Linked DNA regions of Homo sapiens: region 2 is linked to region 1. Evidence: fine-mapped expression QTL. A gene starts in region 1. The other region holds a variant in brackets. All regions are shown on one strand. Distances are from middle to middle.

Evidence for each region.
Region 2: its variant is fine-mapped to the expression of CSTPP1 in whole blood (INTERVAL, PIP above 0.99).

The regions. Positions count from the first base shown.
Region 1 is chr11:46,931,630-46,939,971 of GRCh38, reverse strand. It overlaps CSTPP1 (centriolar satellite-associated tubulin polyglutamylase complex regulator 1), which reads right to left and starts at 3,211. Exons shown (of 9, transcript NM_024113.5): 1 at 3,121-3,211. The coding sequence starts at 3,166. RefSeq lists an enhancer at 3,144-3,353.
Region 2 is chr11:46,976,391-46,984,732 of GRCh38, reverse strand. The region is part of intron 1 of CSTPP1 (centriolar satellite-associated tubulin polyglutamylase complex regulator 1); the gene reads right to left. Among named protein-coding and RNA genes, the nearest start is that of CSTPP1, 44 kb to the right of the region's middle. The variant G/C (reference allele first, on the strand shown) is at 4,376.

The DNA of each region.
Region 1 (8,342 bases):
TTGAACCCAGGAAGTGGAGGTTGCAGTGAGCCGAGATGGTGCCACTGCACTCCAGCCTGGGTGACAGAGTGAGACTCTGTCTCAAGAAAGAAAGAAAAGAAAAAACAAAAGAAACGGAAATTACTTCAAGATGTATTAAATGAAAAAGTATGCACTGTATACTCCTTTATGTATATAATAAACTCTGGAAAGATACACAGGAAAACAATAATAGTGGTTACTTTTGGGAGGCTGAGGATGGATGGAAACTGGGCAGATGGAGGCAAAGGGGTAGGCTTTTCACTAAAAACATCTACCTATCTATCTATCTATCTATCTATCTATCTATCTATCTATCTATGCATTTTAGAGGCAGGGTCTCACTCTATCATCCAGTCTGGTCTTGAACTCCTGACCTCAAGCAATCCTCCTACGTCAGCCTCCCAAAGTATTGGGATTACAGGCATGAGCCACCATGCCAGGCCTAAAAAATACTTTGAATCAAGTTTCCATATTACCAACCTTAAAAAATATTTTAAAATTAATTTTTAAAATAAGTTAAACAAAATGTAAACCAGAATTGTTTTTCATTTAAAAAGATGTTGGCTGGGCGCGGTGGCTCACGCCTGTAATCCAAGCAGTTTGGGAGGCCGAGGTGGGTGGATCACCTGAGGTCAGGAGTTTGAGACCAGCCTGACCAACATGGAGAAACCCATCTCTACTAAAAATACAAAATTAGCCAGGCGTGGTGGCGCATGCCTGTAATCCCAGGTACTAGGGAGGCTGAGGCAGGAGAATCACTTGAACCCAGGAGGCGGAGGTTGGGGTGAGCCCAGATCGCATCATTGCACTCCAGCCTAGGCAACAAGAGTGAAACTCCATCTCAAAAAAAAAAAAAAAAAAAAAAAAAGATGTAAGCCAGGTGCAGTGACTCACACCTGTAATCTCAGTACTTTGGAAGGCCACAGTAAGAGGCTTGCTTGAGCCCTGGAGTTCAAGACCAACCTGGACAACATAGTGAGACTCTTTCTCTACAAAAAATTAAAAAATTAACCAGGGATGGTGGCATGTGCCTGTAGTCCCAGCTACTTGGAAGGCTGAGGTAGCAGGATCACTTGAGCCCGGAGGTTGAGGCTGCAGTGAGCCGTGATAGTGCCACTGCACTCCAGCCTGAGTGACAGTGCCAGACATTGTCTCAAAAAAAAAAAAAAAGAAGAAGAAAAAAAAAAAAGATGTGCATGGTACATCCATACAATGGAATATTATTCAGAAATAAAAAGAAATGAGTTATCATGCCACAGAAAGACATGGAGGAAACTTAAATGCTTACTGCTAAGTTAAAGAAGCCCATCTGAAAAATTTACACACTGTATGACTCCAACTACATGATATTCTGGAAAAGGCAAAACTTTAGAGACCATAAGATCAGTGGTTGGCAAGGGCTGCAGGGGGAGGGAGAAGGATCAATAGGTGGAGCACAGGGGATTTTTCAGGACAGTGAAACTATTCTGTATGATAATGGAATGGTGAATACATGACATGCATTTATCAAAACCCACAGAACTGAACAACACAAAGAACCCTAATGTAAACTATGGACTTTAGTTAATAATATGTATCTATAATAATATATCTATATAATAATAATAATATATAATATATTATTATATATTATAAATATATATGTTTATCCATTGTAACAAATGTACCACACTAATGCAAGATGTAAATAATAGCGGAAACTGTGAGTGAGGGAGACCCAAGGTATATGGGAACTCGCCGTACTATCTGCTCAATTTTCTGTAAACTTAAAACTTCTCGCCATGTGCAGTGGCTCACGCCTGTAATCCCAACACTTTGGGAGGCCGAGGTGGGCGGATCACCTGAGGTCAGGAGTTTGAGACCAGCCTGACCAACATGGTGAAACCCCGTCTCTACTAAAAATATAAAATTAACCTGGCGTGGTGGCGCATGCCTGTAATCTCAACTACTCGGGAGGCTGAGGCAGGAGAATCGCTTGAATCCGGGAGGCAGAGGTTGCAGTGTACTCCAGCCTGGGCAACAGGAGAGAAACTCTGTCTCAAAAAACAAAACAAAACAAAACAAAACGTCTTTAAAAAAATAAAAGTCTATGAATTATTTAAAATGTGTATTGTGGCCGGGCGCGGTGGCTCACGCCTGTAATCCAAGCACTTTTGGAGGCTGAGGCGGGCAGATCACGAGGTCAGGAGATCGAGACCATCCTGGTTAACACGGTGAAACCCCGTCTCTATTAAGTATACAAAAAAGTAGCCGGGCGAGGTGGCGGGCGCCTGTAGTCCCAGCTACCCGGGAGGCGGAGCTTGCAGTGAGCCAAGATCGCGCCACTGCACTCCAGCCCGGGCGACAGAGCTAGACTCCGTCTCAAAAATAAAATAAAATAAAATGTGTATTGTGTGCATATGTGTGTGTGTGTACATATCTATGCGTGTGTGTGCCTTTTTTCATTCATTAAATGCCTTATACACTAAAGATGCTCAACAAAGTACTACATATACAGTCTTAGCTCAAGAGCCAAGTCAATATCTCAAGTTCTGTTGGAGTGGGCAAATCCGGTTCTGATCCTAGCGCTACCATTTTCTAGCTGTGTGGCCTAACTTAACGCAAGTTACCTCTTCAGCCCCAGTTTCTCCACCTGCAAAACTGGAAGAAAACACGGTAATTCCTCCTAGGGCTGTTGAGAAATTCAAATGAAGAATGATGCATGAAAAATGCTTAGCACAGTGCCTAATGAAAAAGAAAAGCTCGAAATGTTCGCTGACTGATTTGGCACTTGAGGTTCCAAGGTTATTCTTACTCCACTACCAGCATATCAATAATACCCCAACAGGGCCCCAAATCCTCAACGCCAACCTGACCCATTTGAACACAATCCACATTGCCTGAGTTCCAGCCCCTACACTTCAAACATTCTTTACTTCCCAGGTGCTTTTTTCCTTCCTGCTCGGCCTTACAGGCTCAGGCCCTGGAACCCCCGCCTCTCCGCCCCTCCCCATACCACCCGGACCCGATCCCACTCAGACCCCGCCCCCGCCTCCTCCCAGACCCTGGCCTAATTCGTCTGCACGTCTTTCCCTCCCCAAAGTTAAAGGGGGTTCCTACCCAGATACTCGTAGTCCGGTAGGGCTAGGCGCTCCGGACTCAGCATCCTTTGACCGGGGTGGCTTCAAAGCTCCAGCTCTCCGGCTTCCGGAACCCAGGTTGCCGTCTCTCTCCGTTGCCATGGCACCCACGCGGCGGAAGGGGGACGGGAGCTGGAGGAGGTGTCACACAAACAGTCTCCGTGTCGCAAAGTGGAGCTGGCCACTCAAGTTCCGGGGGCAGTCGCTTCACGATGGTCCAGGTTTCTTTGGACTCCCATTCTTGAAGACTTGGTTTTAGAGGAATCTGAGATGAAGAATTCTTTTGAATCCGTTATGTTTCCCAGTGTCGAAGAATTACTGTCAGCCGCCCATATACGCAGTTTCTGAATTTCATAACTATCCCTGCTTTTATACACTGTTTATCCTAACTCAGTAATAGCCCCCGCCCTTTGGCCCCCATAAACACTTAGTATCCCATTAGCTATTTTTATCTCTTTGGTATTTACTATCTTAAATTGCTACAAAGTGCTTACGTATGCATATACCCTGGATGCTTCTAGAGGTCAGAGATGTGTCTTTTCTGCCTATGACGGCTGGACACACAAAAGGTACTCATTAAGTCCTCTGAACTAATTGCCATTTCTTCTCAATTCTCACTCAGTCGCCCAGGCTGGAGTGCAGTAGCGTGATCTCGGTTCATTGCAACCAGCGCCTCCCGGGTTCAAGCGATTCTCCTGCCTCAGCCTCCCAAGTAGCTGGGATTACAGGCGCCCGCCACTCCGCCTGGCTAATTTTTTGTGTTTTTAGTAGAGATGGGGTTTCACCATGTTGGCGAGGCTGGTCTGCAAACTCTTGACCTCAGGTGATCCGCCGACCTCAGGTGATCCGCCTGCCTCAGGCCTCCCAAAGTGCTGGGATTACAGGCGTGAGCCACCGCGCCCAGGCTCAATTCCTTTTTATCTTTGGTTCTTCTTTCTATTCCTAGCCCTTACTATTTGGTACCTTTCCCAGGTGTCTTTCCTTTTTCCTACCAAGACATTGCTCTTCTTGAGGGAGAGGGGCTGCAGAAACGAGGACACCAGTTAGATTTTTTTCCCTATATGCCCAATTGCTCACTTCTTCTTTAAGAGAATATTCACTGGTTTTCAAGTTCCTAAATATTTCTTTTCGCCCCTCTCCACTCCTGACAACAGGTCAGAGATCTGTAGCACTAGACACAGTTCAGACATAGCAGAAAAAGCCACTCTGTCCTCACTTTTTTAGTGCCCTCCCCCTCCAACAAGGTGAGGTTTGTGAAAAAGAGACAAAGAAAACAAAATCAAGCTATCAAAGGAATGACTGGGAAACCAGTAGACCACCTACACTGGGAGGAAAAGGAAAGAGGAGGTTCTTCTCTTTGTGTTCCGAGTGGCCTATTCTTAGCGTCCTCCAGTAAGGAGCCTCAAACCTCCTAATTCTTGCTTTCCCTTAAAATTGTATATGTGTCTCAATTCTAGGCTCCTGTGAGTCACTCTAAGTTTGGATGTGGTGAGGTTAAAAGGACAGAGCCAAAGTAGGAGCAGGGCTTAGTGTCTTGAGGCAAATTTACTAATTTGGTATTTGGTGTGAAGTCCAGCAAATCTGATTTTTTTTTAATTGCCTTCTTATCTGCTTCCCCCATCTAGCTTGAGGTTATGGGAGGTTCATATGTTCCATAACTGTGGCTTTTTACTATTTTATTAATAAGGTAATACCATAGTAATTATTAAGTGATAATTTTACTTTATTCCCAAGCAACTTGTAGCTATTTGCAAATAATCTTATTTGTCCTCATAAAAACTTTCTGCTGAGGTGGGCGGATCACGAGTTCAGGAGTTCGAGACCAGCCTGGCCAATATGGAGAAACCCCATCTCTACTAAAAATACAAAAATTAGCCAGGCGTGGTGGCGCACGCCTGTAATCCCAGCTACTCAGGAGGCTGAGGCAGAAGAATCACTTGAACCGGGGAGGCAGAAGTTGCAGTGAGCCAAGATCGCACCACTGCACTCCAGCCTGGGCGACACAGCGAGACTCCGTCTCAAAAAAAAAAAAAAAAAAAAAAAAAAAACCTTTCTAAGGCACTTTTCCATTTTCTAACTAGGGAAACTGAGGCACAAGTCACAACAGTGACTTGTCTAGTGACTTGTCTAGCATCATGCAGCCACATAGTGGTAGAGCTACAACTGGATCTCAGCTATCCCAACATCCAGGCCAGTGGTCTGACCACTAAACCACACAGTCTCTTTTTTTAGGGTTTGTTGACCTGGCTTTTATTTATTTATTTTTCCTTTTGCTCTGCCCTGCTAGCAACTGGAAGCTCCCAGATAGAAGAAGATAATGTTGAGTCCAGGCTGAACATTTGACATCGTCTTATTTGTGGAGCATTATCCTGGGACTTGGCGGGTGCTGGCTGCTGGGGTCTGTGTGGTGGAGCTGGGAACCAGCCCCAAGAATATAGCTTTGTTTGGGCATTAACCCATTTGTGGTTATAATAATGATAAGTTTCAGCACCAGTGGCGCCCGACTGTTAATGACTCAAAGAAGGCTAAATAAGAACAAGATGTCATCTCTGGAGCAATTTGTAGGTTTTTCCTACAGTTCCATCCCTTCCATAAAAATCCGAAGGACCCCTGTATTCAAAGTCAGTCTTCCACTCTGAATGTCCTGAACAGTCTATTGAGGAGGAGGACTTAGAAAAGTAGGAGGTTGCTAGAGTAAGGCTTCACAAAAATTTGAAGTTTCACCGAAATAACAGGTGGCCTTACTGGTAGTGGAATTACTGACTGTTTACATTTTTCTTCTTTATATTTTTCTATAGTCTTAAACTTTCTATAATAGGCATGTATTATAACCTGAAAACAAATAATAAATGAGTGGCCTGAAAATCTTTAAAATTTTTTAAGCAGATGTGATGACCTTCCAGACAGTGTTTGTTTTTCCCAAAAAGAAGCCACTGCTAGATTTCTCTTCTGTCACAGATTACATGATAATAGATTTTTGAAACACATTGGTTATTGGTGAAATTTTTCAATGAAACATACACTACATCAGTCTTAAGAAGAGTAGAAATATATAAGAGTTGTTAAAATTAAGTGTATTTTTTGTGACTTGAATGTGAAAGAAAGAAAAAAAATGTCAGCCTTTGATTTAAATTGACTTTTCAGGTTCTTAACTTATCATAATATATTTCTTAAAAATTTACCAAAAAAAAAAATCACCGAGGTAAATCGGTAAGTCAGAAGACAACTCCATAATCCTGAAAAGAGGCAAGTGATAAGATATTGATGATAAATAGAGCATCGGATGTTAAAGGCAGTACTACAGCATGACGACTGTAAACATCAAATTCAGAACAATAAGAAAAAAACAAGAGAGAGAATATATTGAGATGGTTTTTGTTTTTGTTTGTTTGTTTTTTGAGACAGAGGCTCACTCCATCATCCAGAAAGGAGTGGAATGGTGCAATCTCTGCTTACTGCAACCTCTGTGTCCCAGGTTCAAGCCATTCTCCTGCCTCAGCCTCCCGAGTAGTTGGGACTACAGGTGTGTGCCACCACACCCGGCTAATTTTTGTATTTTCAGTAGAGACAGGGTTTCGCCATGTTGACCAGGCTGGTCTCGAACCCCTGACTTCAAGTGATCCACCCGCCTCAGTCTCCCAAAGTGCTGGGATTACAGGTGTGAGCCACTGCACCTTTTGTTTTTTGTTTGTTTGTTTGTTTTGTTTTTTAGTATATATAAGGTCTCCCTTTGTCACCCAGGCTGGAGTGCAATGGCACAATCACAACTCACTGTAGCCTGGAATTCTTGGGCTCAAGTAATCCTCCCACCTCAGCCTCCTGAGTAGCTGGGATCACTGGTGCATGCCACCACATCCAGATAATATTTTTAATTTTGTAGAGACAAGGTCTTGCTAGGTAGCCCAGGCTGGTTTCGAATTCCTGAGCTCAAGCAATCCTCCTGCCTCAGTCTCCCAAAGTGCATGAGCCACTGCACCCAGCTGAGACATCAATTTATCAGATTATAATTTCTGATTTTATAATGAGAAAATTAATAGACATCTCTGGCTCTGCAGAAGACCTATTAAGAGATTGATAGGGAAGAAAATCCTCCCTATAATTGAAGACTATAGAAAAGCAAACGGTGAATACACTAAACAGTTTTAAACTTCAAGGAAGCAATAAGGAAAGAATAAATGCAGGCTGAATTATTGCTATAAAACAGGTTCAAGAAACTAGGACAAGCTTTTATCAACTGATCAAGCAGAAAAGATGCTAAAGGCAAAGTAGCTACTAAGAAATGCAGGTCATGAAATTCATGCTGAGCTACTAGGCTCTGCATGAAAGGCTTATCTTCCACAAGAGCACAGCAGAAACTAAGTGTGATGCCACTGTCTGGGATTCATATGTTTCAATTAAAAATGCTATTTATAGAAGGTAATTTTGTACTGCCACAAGCCAATGGACCAGAGCTTTGGAGTAATTTGTAAAGAAAAGAAATGTTCACAAACTCTTGGGCAGTTAAGAATAACTAATGCATTGTAAGAAACTAGTTAAGGGGATATGGCGTAAATTGAACTGAAGTTCAAAGGTAATTATGGACTGTACTTTCTTGTTATTCTATGTTTTCAAATGCTGCAATAAGAGTTGCAAATTACACATTCATATAGTTTGAAAGGGGGGATGATTTACTGATTCTTGGTAGCCCACAAAAATTAGTTATGCCTTCTTCTGTCCTAGACTATGCAGTTTTGTTTTGTTTTGTTTTGTTTTGTTTTGTTTTGTTTTTTTGAGACAGAGACTCGCTCTTTCACCCAGGCTGGACTGCAGTGGCGTGATCTCGGCTCACTGCAACCTCCACCTCCCGGGTTCAAGAGATTTTCCTGCCTCAGCCTCCCAAGTAGCTGGGATTACAGGCATGCGCACTGCACCTGGCTGATTTTGTATTTTTAGTAGAGACGGGGTTTCTCCATTTTGGTCAGGCTGCTCTCGAACTCCTGACCTCAGGTGATCCACCCGCCTCAGCCTCCTAAAGTGCTGGGATTACAGGCGTGAGCCACCGCGCCCAGCTAGTATGCACTTTTATAACCATTTATGTCTTTTTAAAAAATTCTTCCTACTAGATTGTGAGTTCCATGAGGGCAGAGACAGTCTTCATTCATCTTTAAATTTCTGGGACCATGTGCAGTGCCTGCAGAAATCAGTTATACAATAAACGTCTGT
Region 2 (8,342 bases), 45 kb before region 1:
AAATGAAAGAGCTCTACTTAGTAGCAAATCCTGCTGCTTCTCCTCCCTAGCTCCAGGGACTCAAAGTTAATGTGAAAGCTTTTTACGGGATAAATATTTTCAGAGCAGTAAAAATCAAAGTACTTTTGTCCTTCTAGAAAAAAAAAGCAGGAATTTTCAAGAAAATAGACTTTATACCAAAAATATAAAAAAGGAAAGAAAGAAATATATTGGACCATGCATGTTTAACATTAATCTACCAATCAGATATTTAGTTTCATATTACAAATAATAACAGCTACCATTTTTGAGTACTTGCACAATTTATTAAACAACAATGTGACAGATATAGTACTGTACTAATTGTTTCACATGCTTTATTCTATTTCTTCCAAATACAATCCTATAATAGTTATTCTTAGACTTCTATTTTTACAAGTGGGAGAACTGAGACTTACAAAATTAATTTACACAGCTAGTGGGAAGAGAAGCCAAGATTTGAACCAAGGTTTACCTGATACAAGAACCCATTCTCTTAACACGTTGCCTCACCATTAACACTTTATAATCAGTTATGGAAGTAAAAATTATCTTTATTTTACACAGTGCACAAAGGCAGGAATGTATGTTGATAGTAAAATCACCTGAGAGATATGGTCCATTTGGGTCCACGTGAATTTATGTGTGTGTATGTCTGTCTGTCCTGTCCCCCCACCTTCATACCAATCAGCATTTGTGTGAAGTTAGAACTTGTCCCTAAATTTGAAAGTTTCTTGAAAAGAACCATCCCATCCATTCCTAGTTCGCAAAGTAGAAATAGAAAGCCCTGGTGTTCTTTTTACGTGTGGGTGAAGGGAAGAAGCTAAGAAGAAAAGTTCCTCCCTGCAGAGAGTTTTACACCAGCCAACAGCCAAGTGCGAAGCTCTCCCTAATTGCCGTGCCCTGGTGGTTTCCTTCACCTGCAGCTCTTATCAGTCTAATGCTCCCTCTGTGGTTAAGGGTACCACCCAACACGGGAAAATCCTTAGTTTATCAAACTTCAATGAGACAGAAGTTCAAAGCTCTTGCCTGGCAATAAAACACGGAGAGTGTCATTTTACATTTTTTTTAATGCAAAGGAATAGGCTTTAATTTATGTGAATGATTAAAGAATAAAAAACAGCACACCTGCATCCCTGGAGGGCAAAGATATCTGGGCACCTTAGCTGCCCCTTGGAAAAGGAAAAGCATTTAAGACAGGCTTTTCCTCTTTGGCTTTGCCATGACTTCCACAAGATGAGGATTAAGTTTTCTAACCTGTACCTACGCTCTAGTGTCCTAAAATTCACACTAATGCCCAATTGTCCATGTCTTGCTCAGATAGCATCACTGTCTGAGATAAGCATTTAGAATTTCATCATGCTATACTGAAAAATCTAAGGCAAATGTAAGTAAACACTATATGATCCTTACTTGAACCTAGCAAGTGAAGGCAATTGTGGATCAGAAACTTCTTGGTTCTGTTGACTCACCCCATGTTGATCACGTAATCTCTTTATAACACTGTCAATCCTGCTATAAAATGGGTATGATTCTAAGAATATGTCTGATAATAAACTACTTCTTTAGAAAGCATTCAATATATGCAAAATGTAACATGTTAATGATTATATTATTATTGCTACATGCTGACTCTACAGATTAAAACAGCATAACAATTTTTACTGCAATGGTTAAGAATATGGGTTCTTGAGCCAACTGAACCTGGATATGATTTCTAGCTCTGTCATTTACTGACTGTGTAACTTCATATAAGTTACCTTATCTCTCTGCCCTTTTCTATAAAATTGGGCAATACTAGTACCTACCACAGAAGACTGTGGTGAAGATTAAATAAAATAATCTATGTAATCATCTTAGAATAGTGCTTGGCACATAGTAAGTGCTCAAACAATATTAGCCCCTTACCCCCTTATTGAAAGTTCTGCTCATCAAACCAAGATGTTTAGACTATCTTCAAGGATTCTTGGGCTATATAAAATCTATAACTATAAAAATATACATCATCATATACCCATTTCAGGTATGACCTTTAAACTTGTAGGAAGCATTCACTTATTAACTGCTAATTACTCAGCAGGCCCTAATTTATATGGGGAAAATCCAAAACTATTTATTTTATTCTCTTCCCAAGCATAAATACCATAAAAGCATTAGTTGTTTATTTCACAATTAAATGATAAGGGGTCCTATTTGGAAATTTTTGTTTGAGGGGTCTAGAATTTCCACCTTAACATTAGTTAGAGCACTCTTTTTTAAAAATTATTATTTAATACAGAGTCCCAATAATAGAATAACTAAGTCTCACTGGAAAAAATCTTCATATGAATTGCTATATATGATATTAACAGATGCACACATAGGCAATAGCAGTACAAGTGAAAAGCAGAGTATATACATATACTCAACTTTAAACCTGACTTTTTCCCCCCTTGCCAGAGTTTGATAAATAAATTGATAAATACATAGAGTTTTCCTTTCTTCCTTTTGAGACATATTTTGGTCTATGAGGCCTCTTGAGATTGAGATGCTGGATGGCACAAATAAATGTTTGCTGAACTAAATTAAAATGTTCTCTGAGATTTAAAAAAAAAAGTAAACCTGTTAATCAACAACCTGTCATGTAAACTGCTTAGAAGTTTCAAGTTCAATATCATTTATAAATCACTAACATAATCTAGTATTTGATCTTGTGAGGTACAAATAGATAGCTTAATGGTTTAAACAGTTAATAGACCTCTAAAATTTATTATTTACATCCTCCATCTTTACTGGTATATCCTGGTCCAAGGATATAGTGTGTTCTTGTGAAACATTTTGTCATCCATACGAGACCATCTTTGATCTTAGACCACACTAGACCAATTTCCCTTAACCAAAGGGAATGGGGAAATGAGGAAATCTAGCACATGTAATTCTTATACAACCCAACGAAGTAGGTAATAGCAATTTTTTTAAAAACTAGAGAGGTTAAGAAACCTGCCCAAAGTCTAAATAAATGGCAGAGCTTGGATTCAAACTTAGATTTGACTCCAAAGCCCGTATTCTTCCATTCACCCCACTACCTCTCAAAACCAAAAATGAAAGCAAAACAAGAAAAATCCAAAAACCTACAAAGTGCCCCATCTTACGTTGTATTATCTAGAAATTGCTGGCTCTTCCCTGTTAATACTTTATAGTATTAAGAAGCTTAAATTGGTAAATCAAAGTACTGGTATGATCTTTAAATTTTTAAAAATGTTTATTTCTAGTTAAACACACAATAATTTTTAAAGGTTCAAACAATACAGATAAAGCTAAAGACTAATTCCAGTTCCCATAGATAACAACTATTATCAGTTTGGGGTACATATTTTCAAAAATACAGAAATATAGTTTGTGAGCTTGTTCTGTTTTCATGTTTTAAGTTGTTTTTAAGTGTCTGATATATCCTTTCTGCATCTTTTTTTTTTTTAATCAACAATGTCTGGAGATCTTTTATAAAACAATATGGAACCTACTTACCTTTTTGATAGTTCCCAATGGTAAATATTTCCCTACTGATAAACATTTAGGTTGTTTCCATGTTTTCACTATAATAAACTGGGCTGTGTTGAACATTCTTGTACGTGTTTCCTTGTATATATGTGCAAGAGTTTTTCTAAGGTAGATTCCTCAAGATGGAATTGGCATTTCATAGGATGCACAGGATATCTTCATGTTTACCAGAGATAGACAATTGCTTTTACAAATTAGTTATTCCAATTTACACACCACCAGCTGTATGAGTATCTATTTTCACTATCCTTGGCCTAATGCTTTTTAATTTTGCCGATTTAATAGTTAGAAAATAGCTTTTCTCTGTTGTTTTAATTTTACTTTTCTTGATTACAAATAAAGTTAAGCACATTTTCATGTTTATTTGTATTTCTTATCCTTTGCCAATTTTCTTCTCTGGTTGTCTTTTTTTCTTCTTCTTGACTTGTAGATAATTCTATACATGTCACAAATACATACATCTACTTCATGGTCTTCTTTTAACTTGTCTGTGGTATCTTTCATTTTACAGAAGTTTTAAGTGTTGATACAGTCAAAATAATGTATCTGTGGCTTTTTTTTGGTGTGCTTTGTGTCCTATTCAAAAAGGCCTTCTCTACTCCAAGTGTATAAGCCTATTATCCTATATTCCAGTCTGTACTGCATGATACTGCCACCTTTAAAGAGCCATGCAGTATGACATGTATCAAACAGAACTTTCTGAGAACAAATTTGCAAATTAAGGAATGACCTTTTATTTTATAATTGTTAATTATAAAACAGACAAAAGCAATACATTGCATCTATGCATCCAAACCACTAAAGTCCTGCTATACGGCTA[G/C]TCAAACTCAAATACTAAAAGACACGCCAGAGGCAAACAAAGCATTACACATATGCTAACATCACCTGTGACAACCAGAAAACAAGAGGTGTCTAAAGATCTTTATGTTAAGTAGAGGATGAAAAACTAAAGTCTATTTCCCTCAACCAAAAGGGGTATTGTACTGGTTAATAGCTGTGAAAAGCTGAGTGCCTTGACACTCAAAACAGTCTCTGGTCAACCATTAATCCTCCCCTCTTCCCTTCTCTTTCCTAAAACTGGTGGGTTTTTTTGTTTTTTTGTTTGTTTGTTTGTTTTATATATAGTTTTGGGATGTCAATTAAGGGTAAGTGCTTAAATCCTACTGCCTCAGTATTTCCAGCCTAAATCTCATAATAATACAGCATTTGTAGGTTGGAGTCCTGCAATTTCAAGTGCCAGAAACTACAGAATCTTTTTTATTTTAAGTCAGAGTCTCGCTGTTGTCACCCAGGCTGGAGTGTAGTGGCGTGATCGCGGCTCACTGCAACCTCCACCTCCAGGGTTCAAGCGATTCTCCTGCCTCAGCCTCCTGAGTAGGTGGGATTACAGGCGCCCGCCACCATGCTCAGCTAATTTTTGTACTTTTAGTAGAGACAGGGTTTCACCATGTTGGCCAGGCTGGTCTCAAACTCTTGACCTCAGGTGATCCGCCTGCCTTGGCCTCCCAAAGTGCTGCGATTACAGGCATAAGCCACCGCGTCCTTTTTTTTTTTAAGGAGATTTTCATAGTTCAAACTTAAAGCACTCAGCTAGCTGACCATAACAAAATGTACTTCCTGAACACCAGAGAAATCTAAAGTAGCACTTAAGTTTCCCACAGTTACAATCTAAGGGACATATGAAGAACCCAAGTAATATTTGTCATGGCAATAACTTTGCAAAAATAGTTACTAATAAAGCAGTATAGTTATCAAGTCAACGCCATAAACATTCACATAACTATTTTCCAGAAAGTATCATGGGTAAAAAAAAAATCCTGTAAATTGCTAAACATGTAGTAAATCATATGCCACTCATGTTTTCAAACAGGGAAGTAATAAAATTACAAGGTGAAAATTAATTGTGCTATAGCACGAGTTGTAGTCTTGCAGCCGGGCATGGTGATGCATGCCTATGGTCCCAGTTACTCAGGAGGCTGAGGCAGGATGATCCCTTGAGCCCAGGAGTTCAAGACCAACATAGTAGGACTCCTGTCTCTTTAAAAAAAAGAAAAAGTATAGCCTTTGGGGGCAAACCATGTATTTATCAATTATCATTAAATTTACAGATTAATATTAATTGGTAATATGCAATTTAACTATGAATATACAGAATAGTGATATTAATGCAATAAGATACTAATACAACAGCTTAATCATTTGCTTGGCATTTTACATTAAAAATATTACATAAAAATTAGTTGGCATTCACAACTGAACTAACAGTAACAGGATCTCATTTTTTCTAATGACAAAAAGATACAGAAAAGTTCTAATTTAAAGTAACTGAAAACTCACGGGCTTAGAATTCCCTGTCCTCTCTCTTGTGGTTGATGTGGCTCTGCACGAAGGTGGGGATTCTTTTTCAAATAAGAGTCTCACATGTGAAATCCCCACTAAGAACTATCTCCACATACTGTTTATGGGATATAGCTGTAATAGTGCTCAATAATCCCTTTGAGTTTCTATTTTTGTTATGAAAGTAAAGGATGCTATTGTAGATATTTATAGATACAAAAAGGCCTAGGCCAAAGTGCACAAAAACCGTATGGGGCAAATGGTTGGAACAACATAGACTAGACAGAGAGGCCCCAGTTTAGTCTACACAGAAAACTCATAACACTTAACATATCATCTAAATTAATGGTATAAAAACACCACCAAAGTACCCTATAAAAACATACTTTGGATCTGTTTTACTAGAACAACATAATTTTTGACTCATCACTTTTAGGAATGTTGCAATGTTCAGTCCTACCTTTTCTGCCAGGCCCAACTCAAATGCCACCTTCTTTGTGAACCTTTCCCTGATTCTGTCCCAGCCAGAAGTGATCTTCCCTTTTCCCAAACTCCCTAAACATCTATTTTAAATATTTCCAGTGGCACTTTCTACCTTGATACACAGTTATTTCTGTTATGCGTATGTTATCTTCTTTGTTGGATGTCCTGATCCTTAAAGATAGGCACCATGACTCATTTATCTTTTATTTCCTTTAACACTCAGGACCATTCAGTGTCTTTCACATGGTAGACATTCAAATATTTACTTAATGAACATACAAACTGTATCCACTATTTATAAACTGTGATGCTGTTCTTTATTCAACTCAACCACTTTAGGACTGTGCCTCCCAGGTGGGAAACGCTAAATATCAAAACACATTCTATTACAATGTTAGTGTTCTTACTGGAAGCCACTTTTGTCCTGTTCTCAACTACTCTTTCTGTTGCCTTTTTACTACTGTTCCTTCTCTCTATTCCAATGAGAAGGCACTTGTTCCTTCTATTGTTACTAAGAGCCTCATTATGTTCAAGGTAAAGCGAAAAAATGCATTCGATGCAATTACCAGTTCCTCACAAATTTGGGGGCTACTTGTCATTTCAACATCCAGGACTTGAATAAAAGAAAGTCCAAATTCTTTTTACTCCTAATAACTATTTTCTTTTTTTCTTTTTAGACAAAATGGAAGCACACAGCACAGGAAGCAGTCCTCAGTAAGCCACCGTTCATAAACAGCTTTGCTGAAAGCCTAACAAAGGTTCTGTTGTGCTCTTGCATGGCAGGGCCAGTAAGCAGCAGGAGCAGATGAACTCTTTAAGAAACAAAGGTTCTGTCTTCATGCAAATGTTTGCATTAATAAAAAATAAAGAAAAAGATATAGAAAATGCAGGCTAGCTGGACATAATAGGTCTCTAAATGGGAGGTTTTTCACATTTTTCAGGCGGAGTCAGCAGGTCTTTTAAAAACTTTGTCATTCTAAACATTTCACAGACATCACAAGAGAGACATGCAAATAACAGAAGCAAATCAAAAGACATCCCGCTGCTGTGCTGGCGCCTCCCTCATCCATTCCTGGTTTGTCATTTTCTGTTAACCCTAGTGCTGGCTGCTGTTTTGTTGAGGAATGGAGTCCCTAGCCCATGTAGCAGTACATGTCTAGCCAGCTGGCCCCAGCACTGATAACATTACAATGCAAGCCATGTACTACCACTCAGGGACACGTGCTGCCAGGCAACAAGTGCAATGTGTGATTTTTACACACTCCGCTTGCAAATCTGCATGGGAAAGAGCTTCTAAACTAACCACTTAATAAGATATGGTCTTCTTGAGTGTGAGCATCACTGAGTAGTTCAGAAGATGAACTTGCTGAGGACCAGTCCTTCAAAGTGAAATACGATTGACCCTTGAACAATACGGATTTCAATAGCTTGGGTCCACTTAAAAGTGAGGGTTTTTTCCAACCAAATGTAGGTCGAAACTTCAGTATTCTCAGGAAGCAAAACACACGTATAGGGAGGGTCAACTTCTCGTAGATTCGGGTTCCACAGGGCCAACTGCAGGACTTGAGTATGCACAGATTTTGGTATACTCAGAGAGCCCTGGAACTAACCCCCTGCATATACTCATGGATGACTGCATACAATAAGGGCCTTAAAGTAAATACAGAAACTTAAAAAACTCATGTGGGGAAAGGGTTACCAAATACCTATTCTGTGCCAAGCACTGTACTATGTACTCAACTTACATTGTCTCTAATTTTCACAACCACCATTTAAGGTACTTTTATCCTTATTTTATAGCAGAGGAAATTGAAGCTTAGGGAGGTTCTGTAACATGCCCAAGGTGCAGCTAATAATAGCAAGCCAAAACCCAAAACTGTACAGCAAATTCCCCACGATTCTATACATTTCTCTCATTGTGTGTGTGTGTGTACTGTGTGTGTGTGTGTGTGTGTGTGTGTGTGACT